3 separate regions of the Homo sapiens genome follow, and all the other regions are linked to region 3. The links come from fine-mapping of genetic effects on gene expression. A gene starts in region 3. Each other region holds a variant in brackets. All regions are shown on one strand. Distances are between the middles of the regions.

Region 1 (11,354 bases), 60 kb before region 3:
TAAAGGGCATAAAAAGTCCATATGGGCCGGGCACGGTGGCTCACGCCTGTAATCCCAGCACTTTGGGAGGCCGAGGCGGGCAGATCACGAGGTTAGGAGATCGAGACCATCCTGGCTAACGGGGTGAAACCCCATCTCTACTAAAAATATAAAAAAATTAGCCGGGTGTTGTGGCGGGCGCCTGTAGTCCCAGCTACTCGCGAGGCTGAGGCAGGAGAATGGCGTGAACCCGGGAGGCAGAGCTTGCAGTGAGCTGAGATCGCGCCACTGCACTCCAGCCTGGGCAACAGAGCGAGACTCCGTCTCAAAAAAAAAAAAAAAAAAAAAAAAAGGCCATATGTAGCCCCAAGAAAAGAGCAGGAAAATAATTCCTGCTTAGAGCATAAATCTGTACCTGACTTCCTAACAGGCTGGAGGGAGGAGACAGCTGAGGTCCTGTGAATTACGTGTGTTAACATAGACGGCTCAAGGATGAAGTTAAAAAATATGTTCCCATTTCTCAAATATTGCAAGAGGCCTACTTCTGATTTAATATTGGGTTTCATTCGCATTGTGTATATTCTCCAAAAATGAAGAGAATTTCATCTAGACAAGAAGTTAAGAAAATGTGGCTAGGCAGAGTGTGGTGGCTCATGCCTGTAATCCAAGCACTTTGGGAGGTCGAAGCAGGAGGATAACTTGAGGCCAGGAATTTGAGACCAGCCTGACCAAAATGGCAAAACCTCGTCTCTACTAAAAAATACAAAAATTAGCCGGGTGTGATGGCAGGCACCTGTAATCCCAGCTACTCGGGAGGCTGAGGCATGAGAATGGCTTGAAGCTGGGAGGCAGAGGTTGCAGTGAGCCGTGATTGCACCAGTGCACTCCAGTCAGGGTGACAGAGTGAGACACTCCATCTCCAAAAAAAAAAAGCAAAAGAAAAAAAGAAAAGAAAATGTGGTTAGTTTATCACTAATAGGAGGCTGATTCTGCCTAACACTCACTAGCAATCCCAGCTCATCACGGAGTATGTTTTGAAGCGCAATCAAAATATCAATGCCTACTACTCCTGTTAGCTAAAACATGCTTTTCATTTGTGAAATATGCAACAGCTTCTCATTCAGTGGTATTCCTAGTGACACTTACCGCAGGATGGGAACCTGGAAGTTGTGGACGGCCTCCAAAATTAACATTTCCTGGTTAGAGAGAGCATGGACAATTACTGCTCTATCTGAGGAAACCACTTCCTTCCCCTCCCCACTGCAGATCAATCAATGAGATCAGGATGTGCTGCTGCTTGAGAAGTGAGCACGCTTTCTGCAGGTACTTCTTTCGACCCTCTTTTACTTTTTCCCGCATGCAATGAAGACAAATAAATTACAATTTTTTTAAAGTTAAAGCAACTGGCTATTTTTTGATTCACGATATACAAAATCGGAGTGCTCTGATATCATTATTAATCAACCCGTAAAAAGAAGTCCTCATCCAACCCAAATCTGCAATCAGCTAAGTCTAAAATGAGGCTGATTGTCACTGATACCTCAAACACTGAGACTCCAGTGTCTTGGGAACTCACCCTGTGTGCCGATTTTTTGACATGGGACAGTAAGAACTCTTAACAAACCATCTGCTTTATAAGAATAATGCTCGACTAGCTGAAAGAGAAAAAAGTAAGAAAGTGGTAAATACCAAGGTCAGGAAATAGACAAATAGTGACTGAGAGCTACTGACTGACTGTTGGGCTTTCGAAGTGGCCCCAAGACACATAAATGCTTTTATGTGCTTAAGTCCACTCCACAAGGGTGGCTGGGGAAGTGGGCCCACAGCTAGGGATCCCCCCTCTTGGGCTAGGGGCAGCAAATTTTTTCTGTAAAGGGCCAGAAAGTGGTATTTTAGGCTTTTGTGGGCCTCATACCGTATCTGTGTCCTTTGTTTATTTATTTATTTATCCAAAACAACACCTTTAACAGCATACAAACCATTCTCTTCAGGGACTACACAGAAACAGGCTGAGAGCCAGAGTTGGTCTGTGGGTTTGCAGATCCCTGGTCTACAGTAAAGAATATTGAAATAGGGTATTATGGCAATCACCAACTCTCCGTGAAATAGCACTGGGGCCCTGGAGTTGGGTAGGGTACAGAAGTACCTTAGAACGCTGTCAAGAAAAATCAATGAAATCATGCATGGGAAATTGGAACGTATTGCTGGCATTTTTGACGTAGTTTCCTAAACACAGTGCCTAGAAAATATACAATGAGGAATATTTAATTAGGGATGAATGCTATGATCTACCAGGGGAATCAATACAAATAGTAAAGATTCTTGGGAAGGACATTCTCAATAATTAGAGATGCTTAACACTATGGTGAGTGCTCAGCCTTTGAAATGGTGACAGAACGCCACACACATAAAATGCCCTTTCAGGAGAAGGTGAATGAATGGCTGTTTATAAGTGATGGGGCCTGGGACCTTGGAGCATTAAGCTGGCATAGAGGACTCCAGGTGCCTTTGCATTCCAGAAGGCCACATTCCCTACTCACCTCCCTGATGTGCTTTGGGGCTTTGAGTGTAGAAAGGTTAAATACTCTTTCGAATCAATATCGTTAAAAGAAAGAAGCCTGTGGTTAATGATGACAAATGGCAATGAGCCACAAAATCAAAAGACAATGTAAATGTTGTGACTAACATTTTTTAATATGATCATATCCAGCATTCAAAAAAGGAGTATTTTTTTTTTCCAATTACAGCACTAGAAAGCAAATCACATTTGGAAGTAGTAAGTTTAAGTGCTTTAAAGGGGCTAAGGCTCTGTAGTCTCAGTTTTTGAAAAGACAGGATTTTGAGTTGAGTCCTTTCCTCAACATTGACTGCATGTGTGGCCCCAGCTGGGCTTGGGTGAGGACATTGGAACACGCCCTGATTATGCCCCTCACCCACACATGTTCAAGGTAGCTGGTGCTCTGGGGCGGTGGGGTGGTGGCAGAGTCGGTTGGCTTTCTCCCTGTTTCTGAACCTACTACAGTTTATAGGATGCTCTGCGAAGATGATGCACGAAGTACTGTTACGGTTATTTCCTTCATCATCAGCCAGTGTAGCTGTGATGCAAAATTAAGACAAGCAATCTGTGCTCACTGCGATTCAGGGAAAGCAGTGATGAGCATTATTTTAGTGCTCATTAGTGCCTAAGGAACTTCCAAATTGGGAGTTGTTTCAGGGTTTTCTAGTAGCTGGGTCAGGAATAAGCACTTTTTAGACCAGGGCTGTGGCAATCAGCATAAGCAGCAGCCTGGAGCCCAGGGAGTATGCTTCCTAAATTGCCTTAGTTTCCACAGAGAGAGACTCGATTTACAATGAGGAGGGCACCTGACATTTGCTGTCTAATTCAGCCTCTCACACCACCAACAAAGTCCTGCTTGGCTGTTCCTAGGCCTCCTTCCCCAGGCATCCATTCCTTTATTTTGTGTGTCTTTGTCTGAAAGGCTGTTCTGGGCTCTAGTTAGAATATCCTAGGAAGAAATATTTTCTAGATCTCCAAAGAGAGTGTCTTGTTAAACTCTGAACACAGCCCTGCACTTACATCACCTTGTGGCACTGAGGGCTGAGTGGCCCTGAACAAGCCATGGAACCTTCGTTCACCTCACATGACGGCCTCTGGACCAGTGCTTCTCAAACACAGAAGCCACCTGGAGGCTGAAAGTGGGGTCTGATGGGCAGGTGGGGCAGGAGCCCAGGTGTGGTCCAGGTGTGTGTTTCTCATGAGCTCCAGAGCTACTGCTGGCCTGGGGACCACACTGTGGGCAGTGGGTGGTCCAGTTCCTCTCATGTCTAAGAGTCCATGGGACAAGGAGCCCCACGTGCCCTGTACTCTACCCACAAGGTGGGGAGAGGAGGCTGGGTACCTGCCAGAGCGTGTCGAACTTCTTTCCCTCGGGGATGGAGAGCTTCCCTGTCTTGTCTTTGTCGATGCGATAGTGCAGCACCTTCCCTTCGTGCAGCAGGCACAGGGCGTAGGAGCCGTTGTTGTCTCTGGCTCGGATCCTAGAAGAGAGGATGGAACTGCATCATCCCCAGGCCCGCCAGTCTCCAGGTGGGACCCTGGGAGGAAGCACCCTGGCCTGAATGGTCAGCAGCCGCTCTCTGGGGCCTGTCACCTGGCAAGGCAGCTGGAGGGCAGAGTTTGGAGCCTCAGGGTCAAGGGCTTTACCCAACCCAGGAAGGCCCAGTTTACCACTCAGGGATGATGCCAGTGGGCAAGCTTGCAACAAGGAAATGCTAGCAGGTTGGTGATGAATGGACCATGGCTAAGCTCTAGCAGGGCCCAGGAGCTCTGGGCAGTGGTCAGGAGAGCCTGGTGCTCAGTAGCAGTGACGCTTCTCAGGGTGATGAGCACAGGGGCACCACGGGCCCTGATTATCTGTGGAGCACTGTGGACTCACCTTTCTTCACCAGGGCCTGCATTTGGGTTAGATCCAAGATGGACAGCTCTACCACCTAGCTTGGAGTGTGGGTGGGGGTGTTTGGTGGGCATTTTAACCAGCCATCTTCTGGACCAGAGATGGAGGGTTATGGAAGCCTCCATCCCCCGGGCCTTCCTCAGTCCCTCCCATGCTCCCACTGCAGGAAAGGGAGGCAGGGCTGGACTTCCACTCTCCCACTGCAGGAAAGGGAGGCAGGGCTGGACTTCCACTCTCCCACTGCAGGAAAGGGAGGCAGGGCTGGACTTCCAAGCTCCCAATGCAGGAAAGGGAGGCAGGGCTGGACTTCAAACAGTTTCAAATGATGATATTGTCGGGTAACACCCCCAGGAGAAGAAAATGACATCCACTGTGGGGTGAAGAGACAGAGGTGAAACCAGAGCTGTGCTGGCCGTGCTGAGCAGCCAAGGCTCTGTCTTCATGGTAATGCTGGGCGACCCTCAGAACAACCCCCTGCCCTGGGTCCTGGTGAACAGAAACACAGGAGTCTGATGCCAGGCAGGGAACAACACCCCCACTGCAGTGCATGCCACGTAAGGCTTATGACTCATGGGGAGGTGAGAGATCCCCTGGAAGACCTGTGGGACTTGGGGAGTTCGAGGTCCCAGTGGAGGCTGAAAAGGCACGAAATGGGTGCGAATCCCCCAGTTTAGCTTCGTAGTCACACACACTGCCCCATTCTCCCCTCTCCACAGCTGCAGCCCTTTGG[T/A]TCATGAGATCTTAGGTTCTGAGGGTGAGTCATGAAGTCCCAGGAAGCCTCTTTGGCCCCTGCATTTTCTAAAATGAGGAAGCTGAGGTCCAAAATTGTTAAGCCACGTGCCCAAATGCACTGTACTTGGGGCAGAGTTCAAGTGTGCCCAACTGCCTTGGGACGTCTGGGTACTGGGGAAATTTCTGATGCCTCCTCCTGGTTGCAAGAAGTCAGATACACGACCACAGGGAGAGTTGAGATGGCCTTCAGAACTGGACATGGCCATGCTTTCCTGTCCCTTGCCATGGAGACTTATCTCAAAAAGCTAACCCAAGACTTGAAAGCTGAACGATGGCATGGGAGGAGTGAAATTCAGAATAAGTGTCTTTTCTAGCGGTGCTTGGCCATGCACAGCACCCCACAGCTCAGGGCAGCTGGCCAGGGTACAGGACACATATCTAGGTTCTCTGTGGCCTCAGCAGGTGGCTGTGCTGAAACCTCCCCACTGTGAGAACAACCTCTTCTTCCCAAACCAACCGAGTTGCCAGCGCCCAAGGTGTGAGCTCCCTTTTCACAGCCACATGGCCGACTACAGCCAGCAGTTGGTGACTGTTAAATACAACACAACACAACACAACAAAAAACCACATGGTAATCTTTTCATATAAAGAGAGAACTGAGTCTGTTTTATAGGGAAAGTATCTTATAAAGTGAGACTATTTATGTTTATTCTATACATATCAGTGGCTTATAGTTTGAGGGTATAGAGAGCTATCCAAATACTACAGCAGTAAGAGTGGATGCATATGCCTATAAAAGTTGGCCTTGAAAGAATGGTGACAATATGTCACTCCAAAGTATTTCCTATAATTTAATCTTTTACGTCTGTGACCTCAAGGTCATGGAGATAATACATGGGATCTGAACCAGGTGCAGTGGCACACATCTGTAATCCTAGCACTTTGGGAGGCCAAGGCAGGAGGATTACTTGAGCCCAGGAGGTGAAAGCTGCAGTGAGCCAAGACTGCACCATGGCACTCCAGCCTGGGCAACAGAGTGAGACGCCATCTCTCCAGAAAAAAAGATAGTAGTAATAAATGGGATCTGAACTCTGGTTTCTGAATCCATGTCCAATCTGCTGTACTCCATCTTACCCTATGTCTTGATTGACATTTTCTTGTTAAAAACTGAGACAGACAAGCACAGGTTTCCCTGAGAGATGATGCCATCAACCTCATTAGGCATCTGGCAAACATGAATGAAGACCCCAGGGAAGTACCATTCCACGCTCTTCAGACTGGTGGAAGTTAGAAAGATCATTCTAAGTGCTACTGAGAGTGGGGAGCAGCAAGGCCCCTCCTACGTTGCTTGTGGGAGCATAAATGGGCTCACCCACTTTGGAAAACAATTTGGAACAGTCTCCTGAAACTGAACTTATTCATTCACAGACCTCGTGAATGAGCAATTCCACCCCTAGGTGTATGAAATGTGTGCACTATGCACCCCAAGGCTACTTATAGCAGCTTCATCTGTGCTTATCAAAAACTGCACACAACGTAAGTGACCACAGAGCAAGTAAATTGTAGGAATTCACACAATACTGTATTCTAAAGCAATAAAATGAGCAAATGGTAGCTATACAAAGCACAGATGAGTCTCACAAACATAAAACTCACTCCATGCTACCATATACACAAAGTCCCCAAACAGACAAAAGCCACCTGTTTTATCTAGTGATGTACACCTAGGTGGTAAAACTAAAAAAACAAACAAATGAAAAATAACAAAAAAAGCAAGGGCGTGATGAACACAAGAGTTCAGGAGGTGGTGCCTCCCAGGAGGCCAGCTGTACAGATGGGTATGAGTGTGTGAGGGCGGAGTGGTCTCCTGCAATGCTGGGTGCATTTCATTTCTTGACTGGGTTGTGTTTGCTTGATAATCATTCATTAAGTTGTACCTATTTAGTTATGCACTCTTATGTGTTTGTTTTATATTTCACAATAAAAGCAGTATAAAAAGAGAGCTGGTACCAGGAGGAAATAGAGAGCAACCCAGAGGAAACAGAGAGTGCCCTTTGCTTTGGAACAAGCAGTTTCTGCAAAGGCCTCACTTCCTTGAGGCTCTTCAAGAGGACAGGTTCTGCAGGCGATCCCCTCTCTTCCTGTGCTCCACCAAGCAGCCCTGGCCAGTCCTGGCAACAGGTAACTGGAAGGTATAGGTAGTGACCATGGACATGTGGCCTGGGCAGCCCCCTGTGGCAGGTGGCAGGAAACAAGAGCAGAGAAAGGAAACCCACAGGCCCAGCATCTGTAGGTGGCAAAGACCAGAAGGCTCGCGACATTAACCACCAGCAACTGTGAGGTATCTGTTGGCTGCAGGCAGATCCTGGACCAGGCCATTTTTAATTAAACATAGGAGACAAACTGATTTGGAAGGCTTGCTCCTCCTCTTGGCTGTGTCCTCTTACTGAGAGCTTTGCCCTGGTGGTGGCATCAGGACACCCACCCAGGCTTATGGCTCTACAGACACCCAGAGAGGGCGTGCACACAGGCAAGGCTCCTGGCTCCTGTCTGGCTTGCTGCCTTCCGCCTTCAGGGTCATCTGGCCTCAGGCTGTTCACAGAAGCCTTTGAATATTTACAAAATATTTTTTCCCAGTAATTGTCTTGGGAGGAGTAAGTTAACAGATTTGTGTTTTGCTATTGCAAAGCCTGAGATTTCCAGGGCTTGAGCTTGAGATGATGCTGAGAAGCTGTCCTAACTGGTCTTGAGACAGTCCTTGACCTGCGGCATGTCTACTTTCCCAGGGTAGGCAGCCTTGGCCTCTGGGGTGAGCAGGCCTTGTGCCTCACAGACACTAGAACACTATCCAAAGGTGAGGCATGTTGACTCTGCTGGGGCATGGCCTGGAAGGGCTGGACTCCTCTACTCTCCTGCACCCTCCTAGGGGAGAGAGAATATACAGAGGTGATGCCCGGGCACCAAGGGGAAAGTGAGGATGTAAGAAGTAGTGAGGCACTCAAGGTGGCCTCCCCAGGGCTACGGGGACACTGCCTGTATCTGCTGTAGACGGAACAGAAAAGCCGGGCACATTCCAGCCCACTAGGTGTTCTCATTCTCCCCTGCCATTTTTTTTCCATGGCAGAGTAGAGTATCACCGGGTCAGTTGTCAGACTCATACAAGGGGAAGGAAGATGCCTGGGATTGGCTGTGTGCATTAGATGTGCAAAGGATGAATGCTCACTGTGGCTAAGGTGGGCTGGGCAGATGGACAGAGGGGGCCTGTGCTGGGTTGGGTGGGCAGTTCTCACTCAGAGCCATCTCCCAACAGTGGTTTCTCAAAGAGAGCTGGGAGAGGGGAAGAGGAGGATGTGGGAGCGAATGAGGTCCTGAACAGTGTGTATGTCAGCAAGAGGCAGGAGAAATGCCAGCTTTACTGATCCATGAAAGATATAGATAATGCAACTTCTGAGTGCTTCTGCCTTGCGCCATAGCACTACTGAGGCACATGTGCATTCCACACAAAGAAGAGCAAGATCAGTACACAATCCCTATCTGAGGCCACACCAAGCTGTTTTAACACACCTGTCGTTTAAAACATTTTATTACAAACGCCCTCTCATTCTCTCCCTCTGCTTTAGTTCATGAAGGTGGAATTATTTAACGCATCTTGTCTTTCAGCTTCAAGGAGACTTTGATCAGCATCAATGAAGTGATATTGACATCAGCCCACAACTCTCTTTGAAGTTTTAACTTCAGACAGGTCATGACTCTTTATGATGACCTAGGTCTGCAAAACCACATGTGTCAAATAAAATGGCATACTTTGATCAATTACGGCAGCATATGAAAGCACTGATGGAACAGAGTTTTTGTTGTGGCAAAGGAGGCTCGTGACAGCCTAACACAGTCTCATTCCTCAATGAACAAGGAAAAGGTTTTTCCTAAGCCGCAAATTCACTTTTGAAATTGAAGTATAGGACAAAAAGTGAGTTGAAACTTGAACAGCAAAAAGTGAGTGGCAAATGAGAGCAATTAAAGTGGGTTTGGCCAAAGGGCCAATGCCAATATCAGCACAGCTGTGGACAGGGACAGAATCTCAGGCCAGCAGCCCAGTGAGCACCTGGATGTGGGATTCCCACCTTAAAGCAAGGACCTGTGAAGAGGAAATCCCCTTCAACTCTGGAGGAAAGTGTTCCCAGCATCGAATACTCAGGATTCCCACAGATTAATATCAATCAGGCATAAGCTCAGAAAGATCACTGAAAACATAAGGAAGCATGAGTTATGAGAAAAGGGGTAGGGAGGGAAAGAGAGAGAGATTTACATCCTCCAAAAGTTTCGGTAGTAGAATAATCAGATATAGAATATAAACTATGAAATGTTTAACAAAATAAAAAACGGAACCATGGAAATTAGCAACCAATAAGATACTCTAAAAATGCCCCAGAAATATTTGAAAAAACAAACAAACAAACAAACAAACAGAACTGCTAGAAATTTTCTAAAAAATGTAATTAAAAAAAATCAGTGAATGAGCGTAAGAGCAGATTGGACACAAATGAAGGAAAAATTAGTGCGCTGGAAGAATAATTCAACGACGTTACTCATAGCACAGGACACAGAAAAGGCAAGGGAAAATAAAAAATATAAAGGATGAATTGAGAAGGTCAAACTGTATTTAATAGGAGTCTCTGAAGGAAGAAATGGGCAAGAACAACAGAGAGCAATATTTGAAGAAAAAAGTAGCAAGATGTTTTTCAGAACTGATGAAAGAAAAGAATTCATGGATGTAGGAACCACAGAGACATGAGAACCATTGGCTTAGCTTTATACACATTACTTAAGTCATCTCCATAATGACTCAGATAAAACATCAGTCTCCCCATTTTATTACTGAGGAAACAGAGGCTCAGAGAGCAAAATTAAGTTGTCCAAATCACAGAGCTATTAAGTGGCAGGGCCTGTCTGACTCATGGCCTGAATTTCTTTACTATCTAACTTAAGTTTCTAGAAATAGAGGCATTTTCAAAGATAACTTTATCGGAACCAGTCCAATAATACAGTATTTGGGCATTTTGCAGGAATTGCAACTGCAAATGCAGTTACAGACCCTCCAATGAACTATGAAAATCTCAAATGATCATAGTTGTTAATCCAGCCCAGGTAGGTAACAGGTATCTCAAACAGGCTCACACCATATCCCCAGACCAGCAGCATCAGCATCATTTGAGAACTTGGCAGGAATGCAAATGGAAGAGTCCTTACACAGACCTGTGAATTAAAAACTCAGGGGATGGAACGCAGACATCTGTGCTTTTGCCAGCCCTCCAGATGGTTCTTTCTTTTTCTCTGTCTGTCTCTCTCTCTCTCTCTCTCTCACACACACCCACACACACACACACACACACATATTCACTCAATAGCTCATTTGTGCATCTTAAGTTACGGGCTCCATGGGTGGCCCTGCAGGATAAACCAATGAACAATAAGAATAGACAGTCCAGAGAAGTTTTGCACCCCATTTTTTTATGCAGCTAAGGACTAGAAGATACAGTGATTCTGGCTTTCTAAGAAAAAGGGTTGTGTCCACCAGAATCAGGGGTGTGCAAATCAGAGCCATACAGCCCTCGTCCAGGAGCAGGCCCTGGGTGGGACCCAGCCTGGGGACACCAGATAACATACCTGTCACCTTGAACATGAGAACAACACCTCTCACCAATGCTCACACCCTTCACCTCCCCTCCCCAGCAGGTGGCTTGCATGGCAGGTGACGCCTTGCTTTGGAAACAGATGTTATTAATCCTTTGCAGTGCAAGTGGGACTCAGTATAAGGGAATCATAAAAATTTTATTCACGTATATCCCATTTCTCTAAGAAATTGAGACAGTTCCTAAAGACATATACTTCAGTATTCTATATGACCAGGAAACAAACCTAAATTAGGATAAACCACGGAGAATGGATGCAGTACTTTAAGTTGGGCCCCACAGGTTGTGCACAGGTCCACAGGAGATGATATGCAGCCGCGGTTCTCAAGTGTGTGTGTGTGTGTGTGTGTGTGTGTATGTATGTGTGTGTGTGAGAGAGAGAGAGGCGGGCTGTAGGGGGAAGAAGTGAGGGGATGGGAGTGTGTGCAGACATGAGGGAAAGGAAGGGGAGAAGAGAGGTGGAGATAACGAGTGTGTCATGCTGCACCTGGAACTTGGC
Region 2 (11,354 bases), 99 kb before region 3:
GGTACAAATGGCTGAAGTGGGAACTGGGGGGCAGGTTGAATGGATTGGGCTGGGAAAGTGCTCATCTGGCTGGCTGCCAAAGGCTGTGAGTTGAGGAATTCCCCATTGTTTGGAGGGGCCTGGGGCTGGCCCCTCTTTCCATTTCCCTAGTTGCTGAATGGCTTTAAAGGGTTACCATCAATGTCAAATTTTGCGCGGCACTGAGCAGCCCAGTGATTTCCCTTACGGCATCGTGGGCACAGACTGGAGGGCAAGATTTGTTGCTGTATAGGGTTTTGTTGTTGGCATTGAAAAGAATGGCAGCCTGAAAGCCGAGGACAATTTTTTCTACAATGCCCTGATTGGCCGCATTGAAAGCATTTGCCAGAGAATCGTCCAGGCATTCTAATAGTGGCCATGGCTTGTGCCAGGACCATTGCTGTATGTAGAGTTCCCCCACGCCTTCACAGGCTTTAATGTAGAAGAGTATATCACCTCCTGGTGGAATTTTGCCTTTAATGGGGCGAATAGCCACTTGGCAGTCTGCATTTGTTTGTTCATAAGCCTTAAGTTCTACAACAAGTCGTTGGCCGTGGCTATCAGGGATGGTTTTCTCTGTCGCATCTTGAAGATGGGCAATAAAGTCTGGATAGGGTTCCTGCTGTCCCTGTGTAACAGCCGTAAAAGATGGACATATTTTACCATCATTCTGAATGTTATCCCAAGCATCTAGGCAACATTTTCATAATTGTTCAATAACCTCATCATTTAGTATAGCTTGGTTTCGAATTCCATCCCATAGTCCCATTCCCAGTAACTGGTCAGCCGTAACATTAACAGGAGGATTAGAGACCTGATTAAGATGAATGCATTCCTGGACAGCATTAACCCACCAAGTCCTGAATTGTAAATATTGGGATTTAAATAAGACTGACTTTGCTAGAATTTTCCAGTCATAGGGCACCAAACGTTTACCTTCTGCTAGGGCCTTTAATGTGGAATGAACAAACGGGGAGTTGGTGCCGTACTGCTTCACTGATGCTTTGAAATCTTTGAGGAATTTAAAAGAAAAACTTTCCCAAGTAGCAGGGCGTAGCCAAACCTGGCCTGGATGAATAGGATCTGGTTGGACTGCTGCCTGGATGTATACCTGGAACTGGCTGTGCCACAGCAGCAGGCAGTTGTGGGGGCTGATTATTTGCCTGAGGAGCCTGATTCTCGGGCTGAGGGACCTGATTCTCAGGCTGTAGATCTTGAGGAGCCGCGGGGTCAGCCTCCTGCTGAGCAGGGTCAGCGGGCTGTGGCTGATTTTGTGCTGCAGGGACGGCAGGTATAGGAGGTTGTAAAATTACAGGAAATTGCCAGGCCTCAGGAGCCCCATATTCTCTGGCCTGAGTGATGGCTCTCATAAGAGGAGTATCATCTTGAGGGATGTATGTAACTTGTTGCTTATGAGCGGCAGTAGTGACCAGACCAGAAGGAGAAACGAAGTTAGGATTTTGAACGGAGGAAGAATTGAGAACCTGTAAGCCAGGTTGAGGTGAGATTACCTGCTGGGCAGGTCCTTCAGGGGCCTGAGGTCCAGGCTGCAGTGGTAACTGCGGGACAGGCTTCAAGGGACCCTGAGGCTTCAAGGGAGCCTGATTTGCTGAAGGAGAAACAAAAGTGAGAGATGGATAATCAGGCTGCAGAGGGACAGGTTTGAGGGCCTCATTGCCAGGCCGAATAGATGGAAAGTTGAGGGCCCTGCAGCAGGGCTGAACAGGGACAGAGTTGAGAGCCTCATTACCGGGCTGAACAGGTGGAAGTTTGAGGGCCCTACAGCAGGGCTGAACAGGGACAGAATTGAGAGCCTCATTACCGGGCTCCATAGAAAGGTAGTTTAGAGCCATTTTCGGGCTGCGCAGATGGAAGGTCGGGGGCCCTACAGCAGGTCTGAGGAAAGACAGGAGGGTCCAGTTACAACAGCTGTTGAGAATGTATTTCGGTTGGATTTCTCTGGTTTGGGGAAATGAGATTATTTAAATCATGTAAAAGTTCATCATAAAGTGATAATGGGGGCGCGGTAGGCTCTGGTGTAGGTGGCAGGGTCAAAGGAATGTCAGAATGGAGGTTCATCTGTAAAATGACGGCCTCAATCTGTGCAGTTTCCTCAGGGGAAAGAGAACTGAGGACTTCCTCAACCTCCTCAGAGGACAGGAAACAGGGGTCAGTCTCCATGTTGTTCTCCTGAGTCTGCAAGGACTCTAGAACAGAGTGAACCAAAGCCCAGATTGACCAAATGGTGGGAGGAATATTTCCCCCTTTATGAGCAATTTTGAATTGTTGGCCAATCTCATCCCAATCTTTGAGTTCTAAAGTTCCGTCAGTAGGAAACCAAGGGCAGAGGAGATCTATGACCTCAAACACTGCAATTAACTTATCAGTAGAGACTTTTACACCTCCTTCTTTAAGGAGAGTTTTTATAAAGTTTAAATAAGCCGAGTACTTAGTACTGGCCTGTCCCATGGTGTCCGGGGATACTCTGAGTGCCCAAGCCTACCACCAAGCGTATTGACTGCAGTTCTCAGGAATCTGTCATTGATGCTCTCCACTGTGTTCCATGCTCGAAGCGCGCCTTCACATAATGAAAGAGAAATCCTCGTTGGGCGCCAGATGTAGTGTCCAGCCCTACAGGGCTTGTGGGTTTTCTCTTCATGTGCAGAGACAAGAGATTGTAGAAATAAAGACACAAGACAAAGAGATAGAAGAAAAAACAGCTGGGCCCGGGGGACAACTACCACCAAGATGCGGAGACTGGTAGTAGCCCTGAATGCTTGGCCATGCTGCTATTTATTGTATATATGGCAAGGGGGCAGGGCAAGAAGTGTGAGTCATCTCCAGTGATTGATAAGGTCACACGAGTCACGTGTCCACCATACAGGGGGCCTTTCCCTTTATGGCAGCCGAGGCAGAGAGAGAGAGGACAGCATACATCATACGTCATCATTTCTTCTAAGCACTTAACAGAAAGATCAAAGACTTTAATACTTTCACTAATTCTGCTACTGTTATCTAGAAGGAGGAGCCAGAGGTACAGAGCGGAACATGAAAGTGGACCAGGAGCGTGACTGCTGAAGCACAGCATCACTGGGAGACGTTCAAGCTTCTGAATGGCTGTGTGTGGGCCTGGCTAATGTCAGGACTCCCACAAGAAGTGGTGGAGCAGAGTGTTCTCTAATTCCTCCAGGGAAAAGGAGATTCCCTTTCCCGCTTAAGTAACAGGTGCCTTCCCAGGCACTGGCGTTACCACTAGACCAAGGAGTCCTCTAGTTGCGCTTATCTGGGCGTGACAGAGGGCTCACACTCTTACCTTCTGGTCACTTCTCATCGTGTCCCTTCAGCTCCTAACTCCGTATGGCCTGGTTATTCCTAGGTTATAATTCTAGAATAGGGATTATTATAATAACAGAACAAAGAGTAATTCTACAAACTAATGATTAATAATATTCATATATAATCATATCTATATTCTATTTCTAGTATAACTATTCTTATTCTTATTATTTTCTTTATTATACTGGAACAGCTTGTGCCTTCAGTCTCTTGCCTCGGCACCTGGGTGTCTTGCTGCCCACACCTTTCTATACCAAAGTGCTGTCATCGTTTCTTCTTTTTCTTTGGAGGAAAGATTGAATCTATATGCCCTGGAGAGAGAGAGAGACAGAGAGAGAGAGAGAGAGAGAGAGAGAGAGAGAGAGAGAGAGTGTGTGTGTGTGTATGTATCTGAGAGAGAGAGAGTGAAAGAACATATCATGTGTAAATTAACCTTTGAGAACTGACAGGACAGGGCTGGCTTTCCAGTTAATAAGAACACAGATACCTGCTTCCTTGGTGTGATTTCAGGGTTGGACCAAATGACCATTGCCCTTTAGAGATGCCTCCCTAATTCTCCTTAAGCACATTTCCCAGTGAGTGTGGGGGGAACAGCACTCTATCATGCTAATAGGTATTGAGCACCTAGTGGTAGTGGCAAAAGAAGTCAGGAGAATGTTGAGCTAGAAAAGCTCCATGAAAAGATCTTGGTTGCAGTGCTCTTTGGAGCTATTAGTAGATTAATGTGCACTGTGAATGTACTTGGCCATGTTTTCTAAGTTAGTTAATCAGGGAAACTGCGTGCTGTAGAGCGTGTCTCCACCTTCCAGACTCATATCCCGGAAGACACTTTGTGAAATGCCTTTTTTGGGGATGCTCTTTGGAAATGTCAGGCCACAGGAGACAGAGCATGGAGCAGGAGGGGGTGGGAGGTCCCACAGCACAGAGGTGTTGGTCCCTGTTGCAGCCTAACACCAGAGAGGAGGTAATAATTCGGTAGGGTTGCTTGCCCAGAAGCAGGGATGAATTTCCACCCTGAGACCACCAGCGAGTAACCAAGAGAGGAAAAGAGACACGGCATTGTTTATCACAAACTAAAACATAATTTAAAAACCAAAATCTGCCTTTTTCAAAGTGCTCCCTTCCTCCCTAAAATGAGAATATATTTATCTATCAGTTCTAAAGTCCCCTCCTCATCTCCGAAGGACAAGCCCCGGGGTCTTAAACCGCTTCTCTGCTGCAGCTCAGGCTAGTGGTAAAGCCATCTCACTGCAGTGCAGTGATACATTATCACAAGAGTTTTTCCCTCCCTGGGGTTGAAGCCAAAGGCCAGTGCTTATTTCCAGAGCTGTCCTAGGGCCTGCGCCGTCTGCTGCCTGCAGCATTCCTCCCAGCAGATGGCCACTGGCATGAACAGCACAGACCATGGCATCTGCTGACATTTTTAGAATAAGGCCACTGTGCTGGCACTTACATGTGTCAGCATAGGCACCCTCAGCTGAAATTGTGGTGCTCAGGGGTTCAATTTATAGGACATGCCTAAGGTCAGTGCTGGAGCCCAGTGGTCTCTTGTGTGTTGTGTTCTTCTCTGACTTCAGGGCTCTTCACCACCCCACTGTATTTGGAGCAGCCCCCCGCAGGCCACTGGGCTACTGGGCAGTCTGTGTCCTTCCCATCTCCCAGCTGACCCAGGGAGCCTTGGCCCAGCCAACTTAATTGTTTCCTCCAAACCTAACTTGGCTTGGCAAGAGCAGAGGGGACCCAGGGGAGGCTAGGATGGAAGATTGTGAGGAGAGTCCCTTAGTGCTTGACACCAGAGAGGGTGGTAATGAAGATGGATACAGACACGAGGGTGTGTCCACTGCAGGACCACTGCCTCACATGGATTTTTAAGTGGTTATTTGGAGTAAGGTTCAGTATGTGCGGTGGTGTGTGCGTTTTGTGTGTGTGTGCTTGCGTGGTGTGTGTGTATGGCATAGTATGTGTATGCGCAGTGTATGTATGTGTGTGGTGTGTGAAGGTGTATGTGGTATGTGTTTGGTATGTGTATATGTGTACTGTGTGGTGCATGCATGTTCTGTGTATTTGTGTGCATGTGTATGTATGTGTGCCCGTCTCTGCATATGTGTATGTATATGTGTGCATGTGGGTACAGGTGTATGTACATGCATGCACATGTGTGCACATGTGTGAATGCATGTGTACATTTGTGCATGTGCTTATGTGTGTGGATGCATGTGTTCATGTAAATGCATGCATTTGTGCCCATGCACATGTGTATGTACATGTGTGCATATACATGTATGCACTGACATATATGCATGTGTGCATATGTACACGTGTGCATGCCTTCTGTGCATGTGTGAATGCATGTGTGCATGTGGATGTATATGTGTGCATGTCTGCGCATGTGTGTAACCTCCTTAGAACAGGCAGAAATTGGGGCTCTGGAATCCTTTCTTTGCCTACCGCAGTTCCTTTTAGGCTGTCTTCATAGAGAAAGGGATAGCTCAAAACCCACAGCCCTGCTTTGGCCTGATGGGGGATTTCTGGGTCTCCTCAGTCTGTCTTTTATTAGGCAGGCCATGGGCTGTCAGGCCCTGGCTGGGTAGATGCTCTGCTCATGAATAAAAGATAG[A/G]GGCAGGGCAGGACAGGGCCCTCCCTGATGGGCCTCCCCGCCGTTCTGTGTGGTGGAATCTCACAGTCAACTTTGACCTGTGCACATCCACTTTTTTTTTTGAGATAGGATCTTGCTCTGTCACCCAGCTGGGAGTGCAGTGGTGCCATCACAGCTCATTTCAGCCTCGACCTCCCAGGCTCAAGCAATCTTCCTGCCCCAGCCTCCCAAGTAGCTGGGACTACAGGTGCATACCACCACACCCGGCTAATGTTTTGATTTCTGCAGAGCTAAAGTCTTACTATGTTGTCCAGGCTGGTCTCAAACTCTGGGCTCAAGAGATCCTCCTGCCTTGGGCTCCCAAACTGCTGGGATTACAGGCATGAGCCACTGCACCCGGCCAACACATTCACTTTTTTGGGACATGGCAGGGACTTAATGTTTTAGAAAACATTTAGCTACCCCTTTGACAATGCTGCTTGACACTATTTGACAGTGTGACTTACCACATCCTAATAACTTCCATGAAAATCATCACAAAGCAAATTTTAAATTTTTATTAAAAATCACAGTTTTTAAAAATGTCCAGTGACACAATGTAGCTCTTCTGAAATGAATGGAAAACACAACACACTGCTAACCAGTGGAGGGAGCTCTCTGCAGGGCTGGGAGACCTGACAATGCAGCTGTAGCCTCTGCAAGTGAAAATCCAGGCCGACTTGCAGTCATTGGACTGATGTCCAAGTGCAATCACCATACAGCAGCTACAGGCAGGGCTGGCTGATAGGGAGTATGGGAGAAGGACACGCTCAGATGAAAACATGCATGCAACGATTTTCACCACTGAACACACTGTTTTCTGTGATAGAAACTGTCGGCCCTGCTGGGGGACAAGATATTCACGGCCTCACTAGCCAGTGTGATGCCACCAGGGCAGCCTGCCCCTGATGCTCCTTTGTTACCTGCTAAAGAAGGACCATAAGGTAAAAGGCACCTTACCTTATGGAGTGAGCCCAGACCCCAGGGAAAAGCTTGGGTAGAACAATCCAAGGGGCAGCCTGGGTATGAGAATCCAGCCCAAGCTAGCTGCTCTAGAAGCCTGGAGGCCTTTCCCAGCTTCCCAAATGTAGCCCTTTTCACATGACCAATCCTTCAATTAGGTTACCTTTCTCTATTTGCCCTCCTTGGTGGCTACAGGGGAAAGGATAATTATTCCTGACCACAAGACACATTTTCACTAGAAAAGACTTCCTCGTGCTGGCCACAGTGGGAATTCTGCACACAGGTGCCTGCTCCACCAAGCAGAGAGGCTCAGGAGATTGTCCAGGGACAAGGAGACCTGGCCGGACCTCTGCAGGGAGGTGAGGCCCCTGCCCCCATCTTGTCCCATCACATTCTGGATGTTTGGCATCCCCAGGCTCCTGGGAGGGGAGAAGTGCTGATAAAAAGGCCAAAAATCACACAGAAAGAAGACAGAAAACTCCACGCACTTCCTACATAGGTGCTACCGTATTCCTACGAGCACGGGGCCTGTGTTGAAGACTCCCTCTGGAAGTTACAGAAGGAAGCCACCAAGAGTTCAGCCTCACAGCCTCTTTCTCAGATGCAGTCACCACTTTACCAAACTTGGCACATCCAACCACTCCTTTCATAATTTTACACCTGTTTGTGGCCTGGCTGACAGATATTTTGTCATTGATCTTTCTAATTTCAGGGATTCTAAATGTGTTTTGAGAATCTGCTCAGCACTCAGGGATTCTGTCTTTAAAAATATGATTAAACCACCAGATAGTGTGATTTCAGAAAGTGTGCGTGGCTACCAAAAACTTCTAAACACAAGTTATATGAGTGACTCCTGTCTTCTGTGGCTGAGCTTGGGTACTGATTGTCTTTCTCCATGCCTTGCATCCCCTGTTAGAGGAGGGCCTGCTGTCCATGGCTGTCCATGCACTTTAAAATGTCTCAGGTTTAGCTGAAGACCAGATGGGTCCAAGTTTATTTATATCTGCTGGCATAAGAATGATGGCTAAATTACCTCTTTAAGTTGTTTTTTTGTTTGTTTGTTTTGACAGAGTCTCGCTGTGATGCCCAAGCTGGAGTGCAGTGGCATGATCTTGGCTCACTGCGACCTCCGTTTCCTGGGTTCAAGCGATTCTCCTGCCTCAGCCTCCCGAGTAGCTGGGACTACAGACACATGCCACCATGCCCGGCTAATTTTTGTATTTTTAGTAGAGATGGGGTTTTACCATATTGGCCAGGCTAGTCTCAAACTCCTTACCTCAAGTGATCCACCCGCCTCGGCCTCCTAAAGTGCTGAGATGTCTCTTTAACTTTCAAGAGGTACAGCAAAACTGAAATCAATGGGTGATGACTTCTTAAAGATCAAACATGAAGATGAGGATTAGTTAAGACCAGAAAATCATTCTCCGATCTTGTATCTTCAACTCAAATTCACACTCCAAAAGGCCTGTTTGTGGTGAGGCTCAGGGTCTTTGGCTTGTTCTGAATTAATACTTTCTTTGGAAACTCTTTAGATGGCTTTGATCCCTGTGCTGCCCCCCATTGCAGACACAGAAAGCGACAGGGGATTCTGGCGGCACCCTCTCTGTGGAGGAGAGGAAGGTGTGGACCACGTTCAGAGGAAGGCAGCCTGAAGCTGTCCTCAGTGAGATGCTGGGGGATGGGCCTCTTGCCCCTGCTGTGCAGCCTCCATGCAGGGCTTTATTTACCAGTCACCAGGTCTTCAAGACAGTCTGCAGGAGAGAGGATTTCAGGGGGAAAGTAAGCCAAGCCAATTCATTCTCATGGTCCCCTTTTATCACAAACATGTAAGTCTTCCATCTCATAACAGAGACAGCAAAAGCAGTATCCAGGCCTTTTTTTTTTTTCTTTCTTTCTTTCCTTAACTGGCTACATGCTTAGAAACTGCACTGGTCAAACTTGATTTTCTTTTTAAAGCCTCAAAACATTTTTATTGTCAGGAAAGCTTTTCAGTGGCCAGGGATCAGTCTCATGGCCGTAGAAGCAGCCAAATTCCTCTGCCTTTGCCTTCCCTTCAGGAGTCACATGCTAAGGCATCCTTGGGCATTTGGAAAAGGCCGCTTGGGGTGAGAGTGCTCTAGGCCACTCTGCAATGTCCCTGGGCCCGATGAGTAACAAATGCACCCCGGGACCCAGAGAAGTGGAAAGACATGAAAGGGATTTGGAAACAGATCGTAAAAATAACCTGTATGAAAATCACACAGACAAGAAAACAAACAAATCCAGCTAGCCCCTTGGATCCTGCCATCCGTCTTTTCTCCCGGGACTGCCTTTGCTTTGTGGAGGGTGAGTCCTGGGACAGGCTTTGGGTGACAAGTTGTGGGCATGTTCCATCCAAGCCTGGCTCTCCCGACTGGCAGAGGGAGGTGGCTGACAATCAATTCCTCTGGATACATTTTCCTGTGATTGCTCCTGTGATCAAAGGCAGCCACCGACAGGTGCGGGAGCGGTTAGTTCACCACGTCATAGTAGTAATTGCGCAGCCGCAGTTCCACTGCTGCGAATCCGGGCCTGTTTTCCACACTGGAATGGAAGAGATGCATTCTTGTTTGTCAATGTGCTTGTGAAAAATTGCTGATCACAAGCAGGGCCTCTGCAGGCTGAGTACCAGTGGTGCTGCTCCCTGGTGGCTAACTCTAGGGCCTGCAGCTCACAGCGTGGTCCCTGTGCCCCCCACCCCAGGGTGACCACAAGGCTGTCAAAAATAGTGTCGGCCTACTGTAGACCTAAATAACCCATATCTGCACTTTAACAAGACCTCCCGGTGATTCATGTCCACCCTAAAGTAGGAGACTTTTTGCATTAGAACTGGGAGTGTTTTAGCCCCAGGTTCAGATATGCGGCACACAATATGCTTCTGTGCCACAGGCAACACGAAGAGGCTGTCACTCTGTGATTTTAGCAAAACAGGTGTCTGAAAATACTTGGCAAATGTTCTGCAGATATAGTCAACATCTGACTCATAATCTTGTTAAGAGAAGAAATACGAACATAACTTTAATTCTCCCTTTCCACGCTCTAATCGATGGCTCTGGATTTTCTGAAAATGGGCTGTTGATATGGGTTCTTAGGAAAGCTCAAAACATGTCATGGCAGGAGCAAAGACCCAGGGCTTGTCTATGATCCACCTTAATATAGCCAGTCCTTACTGCCACTGCTGGCCAGGGAGGCACTAATGTCAGTAAACTATGGGCAAAAGCATTAACAGTTCGCAGTCTCTAAACAAACACTTACAGACACTTCTGTTTTGTCTTACACAGACATCCTGTACAGATCAGTTGGAAGTAAGTACTAAAACCCTGATAATCGATCCTCACTTAGAAGTTATTTTTCTTATTTTGCAAGATTTCTGGATATATTGCAAGTGGGTGAAGTTGAAATACAATAAGTGAAAAAGTGAAACAGAATGTGAGGTTAAATTGTAGGAAACCGTCCACATTCAGCCATTTTGACCTATATCAATGGCAATTTCATATGATTCAATGTCGACACAAGAGAACAGCCATAGAACGCGCATCAGGACCAAGACTCACTCATCATTATAAGAGCAGAGTGGCTTCTACAAATCAAAATGGGTAGCTTTGTCAAATGGCATCAAAATACATGGTTTCTCTTATAGCTTTCAATAGTGAGCAAAATGATAAAACTGCTCGAATTGATCAGTGTGGTCAGCCATCTGTGGTCATGTCTGGGGACACGGGCCTCCCAGGGTGTCACTGAGAGGGGCTTTGTCTCTGGCCACCAAGTGTGTTCCGAGAGGGGATATGGTGGCCAAGCCTCTGGTACAGGAGCATGTGTCCACCCAGAGGGACAGCCTCTGTCTTGCTCCTAAACTTCTACAGTCAAAGAGAACACACTTCAGCATCTTTGCAAAACAGGGGGCTCTGCTCCAACTGTGGGGATCCAAATGGTACAAAGAGCACCTTTGGATCTTGCTCTGGGGGTTCATCTGCCCAGCAGCCAAGGAGCAAACAAATGCAGGGAAACAGGAATACAGACTCGTCCTCAGGAAAAACACCTGGTCAGGTCTCCTAGGAAATCTCTCCTGTACATCCATGGGAGATGCTGCCTCCAGGAAGCTGGGACACAGCTGTGCTTCAGCAGCAGGAGGGTGATGCAGTGCCCTTGCGTGCCCAGCTTCCTGGCCTGCCCTGGCCTGCCACTCTGCTTTCGGGCCAGAGTGCAGATTCTGCTCTGCTCCTTGTACCCAGTGACCCTCCTCCTCTCCCCTCATCCCTGCACTCAACCTTGCTTCTTAGCCTGCAGGTCTCAGCTGCAATCCCTAAAGGCGGCCTATCTGGAGCCCCTGCTGGAAGTGTGAGGCTTCCCTCCCCATAATTTTCTGTTCTCTTTTAAAGTTTCC
Region 3 (8,600 bases):
TCAATGTGTAGACTTCTAAAACAAAACAAATTCTTCCCCAAAGGCCTAAATTCCTGTTGTTGTTGTTGTTTTCTCCACCCAGTTATAGCTAAACCAATCCAGAAGTAGTGGAAAATGTTAAAACCAGCAAAGCAAGAGTAGAAAAGTCAGGGGGTAGCTGGAAAAAAATCTATACAGGGAAAGTTGAGAAAGTAAAAATTAGCCATCACTTAGGCTTAGATAACTGACACAAACCCAGCTGGTTGCAAAGTTAACAGGAAATAATATTTCTTCCATGGACAGACTGCAGCTGTAAAGGGTGACAGTAACCCCTCCTGTAAGTAACTTCTGCTCTGTTTCTCTAAAATGGTAGACTGTCAGAAACTATGCTGTTTGAAATTATATTACAAAGATGAGACATCCACTCTTACTTGAAGTACCTCTATTTTGATCGGTATGATTGAAAATTCAGTAAAATCTTGCTATTTAAGACTCCCTAAAGAGAGAGGAACTGCCCTTCTAATTACTGGAAAGTGTGAAGTATTGAACAACATAAATGCACTTTCCTTTTAAAAGCAAACCGTAGTTCAGTGGAGTCTAATACAGACTCAGTCCCTCAGCTGCAGCTCTAAAAAGCTCTGAAAAACAACACTTTTTTTTTTTTTGGTAAGTCTTAGAGAAGCTCTCGTAGTGATAACACCTGCTCTAAACAGACACACAGCTCTTTATAGTCTTTATTTATTCCACTTAGTGAGAATATTCATGTTCTTAAATGTAAAAGTACAGAAATATTAATGCATGGAATTACAGGATTCTCTCCAGACTATATTGGAATGGCATGTAACCAGCAGGGTCAACATGTATGTTTACCTTTCTAAATTCTGAGCAATGTCTTTCTCAGTTCTGAAATTTAGATTCTAAATTTTAATTCCAAATTCTGAAAAAGCTTGAATTCCAAAATACGTCTTGGCACAAGCATATTGGATTATAACCATGGGCAAACAATGTGCTAAATAAGTGAAGTTCTACTAAGAAGTCTTCCATTAAAAAAAAGCAGAGAGATTAGACCTGCATTTAGAATATTAAATAGGGGCCTAACAAAGATCAGGGTGATTCATTTCTAAAGTGAAATCTAGCAATAAAATAACGTTTCTACCAATTTCATCTCTCAGGAAAGATAAAGACCTAAAGTATACACCCCATTTTTATCCTAGCTTAAAACTTTCTAGTTATTAAGACTATTATAAAATCCTATTTTATATTTCACTTCAAATACAGAGGCTTAAAAAAAAATCTTCCCACAATCCCTCAGTAGAAAAATCTCTTTTTTCCTAGTGTTCAAATCCAACCTTTTCAAATCCAAGGTAGAAGAGTAAGAGGATAAGACACAAATCAAGTAATTTGATTATAATCTCTCATTCAAATACACTTTAAAGTGCACTTCAAATACAGGGGATAATACAAATCAATTTCTGTTTTAATGCAAGAGTTTTCTAAATACGTTAAAACAAAAGTGCCGTTCAGAACAAAAATGATTTGATAAAATAATTTCAACTGACAAAGATTTCTCACTTAAAACACTTAATAATTTACATGTATTTAAGCCTTTTTGAGAAAATATAATTCTATCTATGCACTGCTCGGACTTTCACTGGGGAGAAGGAGGACATCAATGTATTTAGTTGCATTTAATTAAAATGCTGCCTGTGTGAAGGCAATGAATTTGTCCCTACTAAGACAAAGAAGTCAGATGGTAGAATCAATTCCATTTCTTCCAGGAACTCTTAGGGATTAAATGGTTCCTTTTTTTATTTTTAATACCAAGAATCAGATATGGCACAACATCTTCAACTCTTTTTTTTTTTTACTACACGCTGCAATGCTTTGAACTCTACTTGAGTTCGACTGAATCTTTGCTAAGTCAGGCAAAACTCAAAAAATATTTTGCAACACTGTTTCCAACGTAAAAAAAGATTCAAACTCTCACTTCTCCAATTGTCTTTCTAGTCCTTGAACATTCCAACAAAAGAATGGATTGCATTTATATAGTTTTTAGGTGGGCTTAAGGTTTTGGAGCCACATTGCCAAAAACAGACAAACAGACAAAAAGAAACACCCTTAACTCTTAACTCAAATTTACATTTTACTACATAAAACTTTCTTGCTCTCCAAGTTCATTGGCTAAGTAAATTACTTGACAATGAAAATGTATCCACAAGAGTAATTATGCTAAATTTTAGTAGTGGTTCAGAAGGGTTGTTGTTTGAATGCAACTGCTGTTTCTTTTTGTAGTAAAAGATTTGTCTAAGCTCATAAGACGTCTGGACATTTCTACTTTGAGTAACTTTGATAAACACTGCGGCATTTTCCAGTGGATTCGTGTAAATGGCCAAAGGAAAATGTTCTAGCTCCAAGATCGACTTCCTCGCGCTGTGCCTGATCCCAATCCCGCGTCTCCCGAGGGCCGGGCCGCGACCGCACTTTCCGCGCTCCCTGGGGGCCTGGGCGCCCTGGGGTGCCCGGGTCACTTTCCGCACGGTCTGACCTCCGTCCCCTCCGCCCAGGCCTGAGCCCCTCTCTCCCGGCGCAGCTTCTGGATCCCGAGCGCGGGTAGGTTCAGGAGCGAAGCTGGCGGAACCCACCTGTATTTTATTCACATGGTTTCAGCACTTTTACCTCGGCCGATGAAGGTAGAACAAGAAAGGGCATGAAAGCAGCGCGTCGTTCCCCGTAACCTCCTCTCCTTACCAGAAAGTCCCGGCCGGGTAGGGGACGCGGCCACACCTACCTGCGCCAGGTGAGGCGAGGGCGGGCGCAGCGCGGGGCCACCCGCTCCTCCTCGCTCTCCAGCCGCCGCCGGGGTGGCCTCAGCCGCCGGGCCCGCGGCTCTTCCTCATTTTGGGCAACTTCCTTAACGCGCCCGGGCAGGCGGCCCGCACTTCCTCCCAGTGTCGCGCCCCGCCGCCCTGGCCCGCCCTGCTGACCGCGCCCATGAGCCCGGAGCTGGGCGGGAATCGGCTGAAGCGCCGGGCGAGGCCCGCGGAATCGGCCCAGGCGGCGGCAGGTGTAGAGGAGCCCGGGTGGGGCGCGCCTCTCTCCTCCCGCCGGACAAGGGCCCTTCGCAGGCAGAGAAGGTGGGGCTGCCCGGGACATGGACCGCATCGGTCCCCCTCCTCCCCGCCAGCGCGGTGGCTTCTGTGACTGCCCAGGACCCACAGACACCCAGCGGCCCTTTCCTTTTGCTATGCAGTGCCGGGGAAGAGACTCCACTGCATGGCATATTCCCTGGAGTGTATCTTGGTCACCAAACCAACAAGCTCCAAGCTACTGTGCTGGAGCACTCGGGAGGCCTGGGCAGTGCTGAGAGGGACCCTGTAGGTGAACACCAGACTTCACGGCGCACTAGTGGGCAATGGGGCACGCTGCTTCTGAAGGCTTTAATTATTACAAAAGGCTTTGCTTCCTTCTTACCATGACGGCTCTGACGTCCACAACCAAATAAATTAAACCTATAGCCCTAAGAATGGTTTTGAGATACCCGCCTGATACCCTTCTCCCAACCCATCCCCCTTTTCCTTTTGGACATTCCTCTTTAAAATGTTCCCACAAAACGGCATCCAGACCTTCTTGATAACACTGGTTGGCAGTGCCTGTTTTAAAAAGCTTTACCCTAAGCCAAAATGCGAGAAGCAAAAAAATATATATATAATGTGCTGGATTGTAATTGCCATGGAGAAAATATAGGGATGGGACTATTTACACTTATTGGAGCCCCCAGCCTTTTCTGCTTCCAGGGTTATTGGATTTTCATTCATTTTTGCCATTATTTTTTCTAAACCTGTTAAAAGAAAACTTCAGCAGAATTAAATTTAAAGCAGTTTAATTGAGTAATGAATGATTTGCGAATGGGGCAGCTTCCAGAATCACAGCGGATTCAGAGACTCCAGGGATGCCTCATGGTCAGAACATATTTATAGACAAAAAAAGGGAAGTGACATACAGAAATTGGAGGTAAGGCAGAGAAACAACTGGATTGGTTACAGGTTGGCTTTTGCCTTCTTTGAACACAGTTTGAACACTCAGCAGTGTATGAATGGTTGAAGTATGGCCACTGGGATTGGCCAAGACTCAGCTATTGTTAAAGGCACATACTCCTAAATTAGGTTTTCAATCTTGTCTGCCTATTAAGCTAGGTTACAGTTCATCCACAAGGACTCAAATATAGAATACAGAGTCCTTCTCAGATCATACTTAGGTTGCTTTAACAAACATAAATGGAAGATTTTGATAATGGTTATATTTGCTTATCATTGGACTTAATTTTGCTTCAACTACCCGAAAAAATAGCCATTGTTCCTGAGATGGAGCCTGCAGAATGTCTACAGATGGTTTTCAGAGTTGTCAGCATTATTGGAGATGAACACTAGGGGACCAGTGTGTACAAAGCAAACCCAGCCTGCACAAAGATTGCAGTTTTCTCAGGCTTTCACCTGATGGAAATGAGGGGGAAATTCTAGATCCATCTACAACCTCCTTCCTTTACACTGCTGTGTTCCTTTCCCCCTTTGAGTCACCTTCCGCATTACTTAGTATCATGTAGTAATTTTTTTTTTTTTTGAGACGGAGCCTCACTCTGTTGCCCAGGCTGGAGTACAGTGGCCCGATCATCTCAGCTCACCGCAAGCTCTGCCTCCTGGGCTCACGCCATTCTCCTGCCTCAGCCTCCCGAGTAGCTGGGACTATAGGCGCCCGCCACCATGCCCGGCTAATTTTTTGTATTTTTAGTAGAGACGGGGTTTCACCGTGTTCGCCAGGATGGTCTCGATCTCCTGACCTCGTGATCTGCCTGCCTTGGCCTCCCAAAATGCTGGGATTACAGGCGTGAGCCACCATGCCTAGCCTAAAAGATGGTTCACATTATGTATCATCAGGGAAATGCAAATGAAGACAGTAAGATATCAGTATGGCCCAAATTCGGAACACTGACCGCAGTGAACACTAGTGAGGATGTGAAGCAATAGAAATACTCATTCATTGCTGTTGTGAATGCAAGATGGTACAGCCACTGTGGAAGACAGTTTGGCAGTTTCTTATGAAACTAAACATCCTCTTACAACATGAGTAATTATAAGAGGATTGTCCTTCTTGGTATTTACCCAAAGTAGTTGGTATTTACCTAAAGTAGTACCCAGTAATTGTGCTTCTTGGTATTTACCCAAAGGAGTTCAAACCTTATGTTCACACAAAAATCTGCACACAAATGTTTACGCTGGCTTTATTTACTAAGTTTATTGCCAAAACTTGGACACAAACAAGATGTCATTCAGTAAGTGAATGGATATATAAACTCTTGTACATCAGTGTAATGGAATATTGTTCCACACTAAAATGAAATGCACTAGCAAGTTATGAAAAGAAATGGATGAAATCTAAATGCATATTACCAAGTGAAAGAAGCCCTCTGAAAAGGCTACATACTGTATAATTTCAACAGGTGATATTCTGGAAAGAGCCAAACTATCTGGATAGTAAAAAGATCAGTGGCTGCCATGGGCTGGTGGGGAGGGCAGGATGAATAGAAGGAGAACAGAGATTTTTTAGGGCTGTGAAAGTATGCTGTATGATATTACAATGGTGGATACACAGCACTATACATTTGTTAAACACCATACAATATACAACACCAAGAGGGAACATCAGTGTAAACTTCAGGCTTTGGGTGATTATGATGTGTCAAAGTAGGTTCATCAATTGTAACAAATGTACCAGTCTGATGGGGCTGTTGATAATGGGAAAGGCTGTGCATGTGTGAGGTCAGTGGGTATATGGGAAACCTCGGTACCTGCCTCTCATTTTTACTGTGAACCTAAAACTGCTCTAAAAAATAGTGTTTAATTTAAAAAAATAGTTTTTTTGGTAACAGTGGCAAGTATTCCTAATAGGCAATCCCTTAAAAGAATAAAAGCACAAAGGAAATAGAAACATCCCAAATTTCAGACATAATCATCATTACCGTTAGGTGACCCTTACAAAATTATCTCTTTCTATATGTACACATGGCAATAGATATAAAAATGGGCATCATTTTAAATATAATACATTTATTATACATTTTATCCATGTTAAATATGATATTTAATTCTACTTAAATTTAACAGAATAAAAAATTCTGAAATGGGATCTAAAGAATTGCTGATTTTATAGAAATGATTCTTTGCCACAAATGTATCATTTCTGAAATGACCCCACTTTGATTAAAGGAAAAGAAAAGTGACAATAATAAGCAGTTTTCGTCATTTCTTCTAAACCATGAGCTTTAATTTCAGACAGTATCAGTAACTCTGCTATGATACATGAACCAATTACCTCTCTCACTCCACTTCACTTCAGCTCACCTCTCACGTTTCCCTAGTTATATGAGTTTTACATAGTTAAGTTTAAAATTTTTGATTTCTGTAACCATAAACCCTCAGTGGTCTCTTCTTAGTTCTCCATTTAAAAGGATACCTTATGCACCTCCAGACCTTTCTACCACCATATCTCATTCCTACTTTCTTTGTTGATGAGCTGGATGGACTCTGTGAAGATGTGATCCCACATACTGCATCTATCAATGCTCTCCACTTTCAGGATGTTATTCTGTTGCTGTTGTATTGCAGTGACATCAAGGTGGGCACATTGTGTCTCCATCCTACTTCCCTTTGGCCTAGACTCGGTTGATTTTCCTCCCTTGCCCCTTTGGCATTGAATGTTGTTTTGGAGAAATGTGAGAACAGCCAGTCCTTTGTCCTCTTTTAGGTGACTTGCTCTTCTTTCCAGGCTGCTGGAGGAAACTTTCTTTAACTGAGATATTAAGAAACTTGACAAGGATATATACTGATACAGATCAACCAGCATCTTTTATTTCTTTTTCTTTTTTTGAGATGGAGTTTCACTCTTGTTGCCCAGGCTGGTGTGCAATGGCGTGATCTTGGCTCACTGCAACCTCTGCCTCCCAGGTTCAAGCAATTCTCCTGCCTCAGCCTCCTGAGCAGCTGGGATTACAGGCGCCCGCCACCAAGCCCAGCTAATTTTTTGTATTTTTAGTAGAGACAGAGTTTCACCATGTTGGCCAGGCTGGTCTCGAACTCCTGACCTCAGGTGATCATCCTGCCTTGGCCTCCCAAAGTGATGGCAGGAGTCACCACACCCGGCCATCTTTTATTTCTTAAACACAATGCACTCTTTAATGCACATCATAATCACCCAAAGCCCAAAGTTTGCATTGAGGTTCCCTCTTGGTGTTGTATATTGTATGGTGTTTAACAAATATATAATGCTGTGTATCCACCATTGTAATGCGCAGATTTAGATCTTCATTCAAAGAATTTTTTCTTGTGTGATTTTAAATACCTTTTTATTTGTTAAGTGCTTTTCTTCAAGGATATTAATTAACTTTTTATCATCTAAGTCTATTATCTTTTCTCTGATTGTAGTAATCTACTTTGTTTTTTCTTCCTGGTTCACAGTGATTTTCTCTCTCTCCCTTTCTTTTTTTTCGGGAACTAAATGTTTAGCTGGGTCTGCTTTATTTCTTGTTATTTCTAATTTACCTGTAGGTAGGTTTATTGGTCCTCAAATTATTTCTTTGTCTCTGGTTCTCTCTATCTCACTCTTTTTAGTTATTTTCTCTTGGTTATTCAATCGGTTCTTGAGTTTTTTAAAAAATTGAATGCAGGCTCTTATCAAATTTTGTAGCCTGTGCACTTAAAAATTCTTTCAGACTGGATTTTATTTTTAATTTGTGCATGTTATTTTCTTTTAAGGTTTGCATAGCTGCTAGTTCATTGATTTCATCTTGTCCATACTTGGCAGCTTTCTTCAGACTTTCACTTTGCTCTGCCCCTTTGTGTGTGGCAGCTCCTAAATCCTCATGTCAGAGCCTTTTCTTACCCCTTTTCTGGATTACATATGACGGCTTAATATTCCTTTTGAGCTTGATTTTCTATAACCTTTGAGCGTGGGAATGGTGGGGGTGGGCTTAGCTGGAGTTGTGTTGCACAAACTGGGCCCCTCCTTCCAATGTGAGACTGTGAGGAACATGCAGGCTTCGCACTTCATTGAGGGAGGGAGAAGGCTGAGCTTACTCTGTCCAGCGAGGTTGGGGGCATCTGTGAGTTTCAGCTCATTCCCCCAATTAATGTGGGTCGTTGGAGTCCTCACACTCTGACAAAATCATGCCACATTGCTGCTATTTCCTTTTGCACTAATCTCCACTGCAGCCATTTTCACTACTCCACAGTCAAAAATGAGAAAAACTAAGGATAAACAATGGCCCCTTCTTCTCTCAAGATCTGAGTGAGAATTGTTCAGGATTTTGTAGACGCACAATATATGGTTTCTGGGAGGTTGGAGTGTGGCCTCATTGTGATACTCTCAAACTTCTGGTTTTTATATGAGCCAGCGCTTTTCAAAGTGCATTTTGTTAAGCGGTTCTCCTTTTCTTGTTTGGTTACCACTTGTAACTTTAGCACTTTTGTTTCTTCCCGCTTCCCTTTTTTCTTGAGGTAGAAAGATGAGGAAAGTAAGGATTCTTTTCTTCTAGATGGTGAGGCCTTGATATTCTGTAAATGTTTCACTAT

Direction of the effects. Alleles are on the strand shown, and positions count from the first base shown. SD is a standard deviation of normalised expression in the study named. Not every link is listed here.
For the expression in monocytes of the gene that starts at base 2,842 in region 3, T is the low allele of the variant in region 1 and A is the other (small effect, 0.32 SD a copy in Quach 2016).

Evidence for each region. PIP is the estimated chance that this variant, and not a neighbour inherited with it, causes the effect. A credible set is the group of variants that fine-mapping cannot tell apart.
Region 1: its variant is the best candidate, but not a certain one, in a credible set for the expression of SYK in monocytes (Quach 2016, PIP 0.86).
Region 2: its variant is the best candidate, but not a certain one, in a credible set for the expression of SYK in whole blood (INTERVAL, PIP 0.82).

The regions. Positions count from the first base shown.
Region 1 is chr9:90,854,869-90,866,222 of GRCh38, reverse strand. It overlaps SYK (spleen associated tyrosine kinase), which reads right to left. Exons shown (of 14, transcript NM_003177.7): 4 at 3,879-4,017; 5 at 1,556-1,634; 6 at 1,126-1,175. Among named protein-coding and RNA genes, the nearest start is that of SYK, 59 kb to the right of the region's middle. The variant T/A (reference allele first, on the strand shown) is at 5,164.
Region 2 is chr9:90,893,688-90,905,041 of GRCh38, reverse strand. SYK (spleen associated tyrosine kinase) reads right to left here. Exons shown (of 14, transcript NM_003177.7): 14 at 6,493-9,514. The coding sequence ends at 9,442. Among named protein-coding and RNA genes, the nearest start is that of SYK, 98 kb to the right of the region's middle. The variant A/G (reference allele first, on the strand shown) is at 5,972.
Region 3 is chr9:90,796,061-90,804,660 of GRCh38, reverse strand. SYK (spleen associated tyrosine kinase) reads right to left here and starts at 2,842. Exons shown (of 14, transcript NM_003177.7): 1 at 2,768-2,842. RefSeq lists silencers at 2,704-2,863, 2,884-3,093.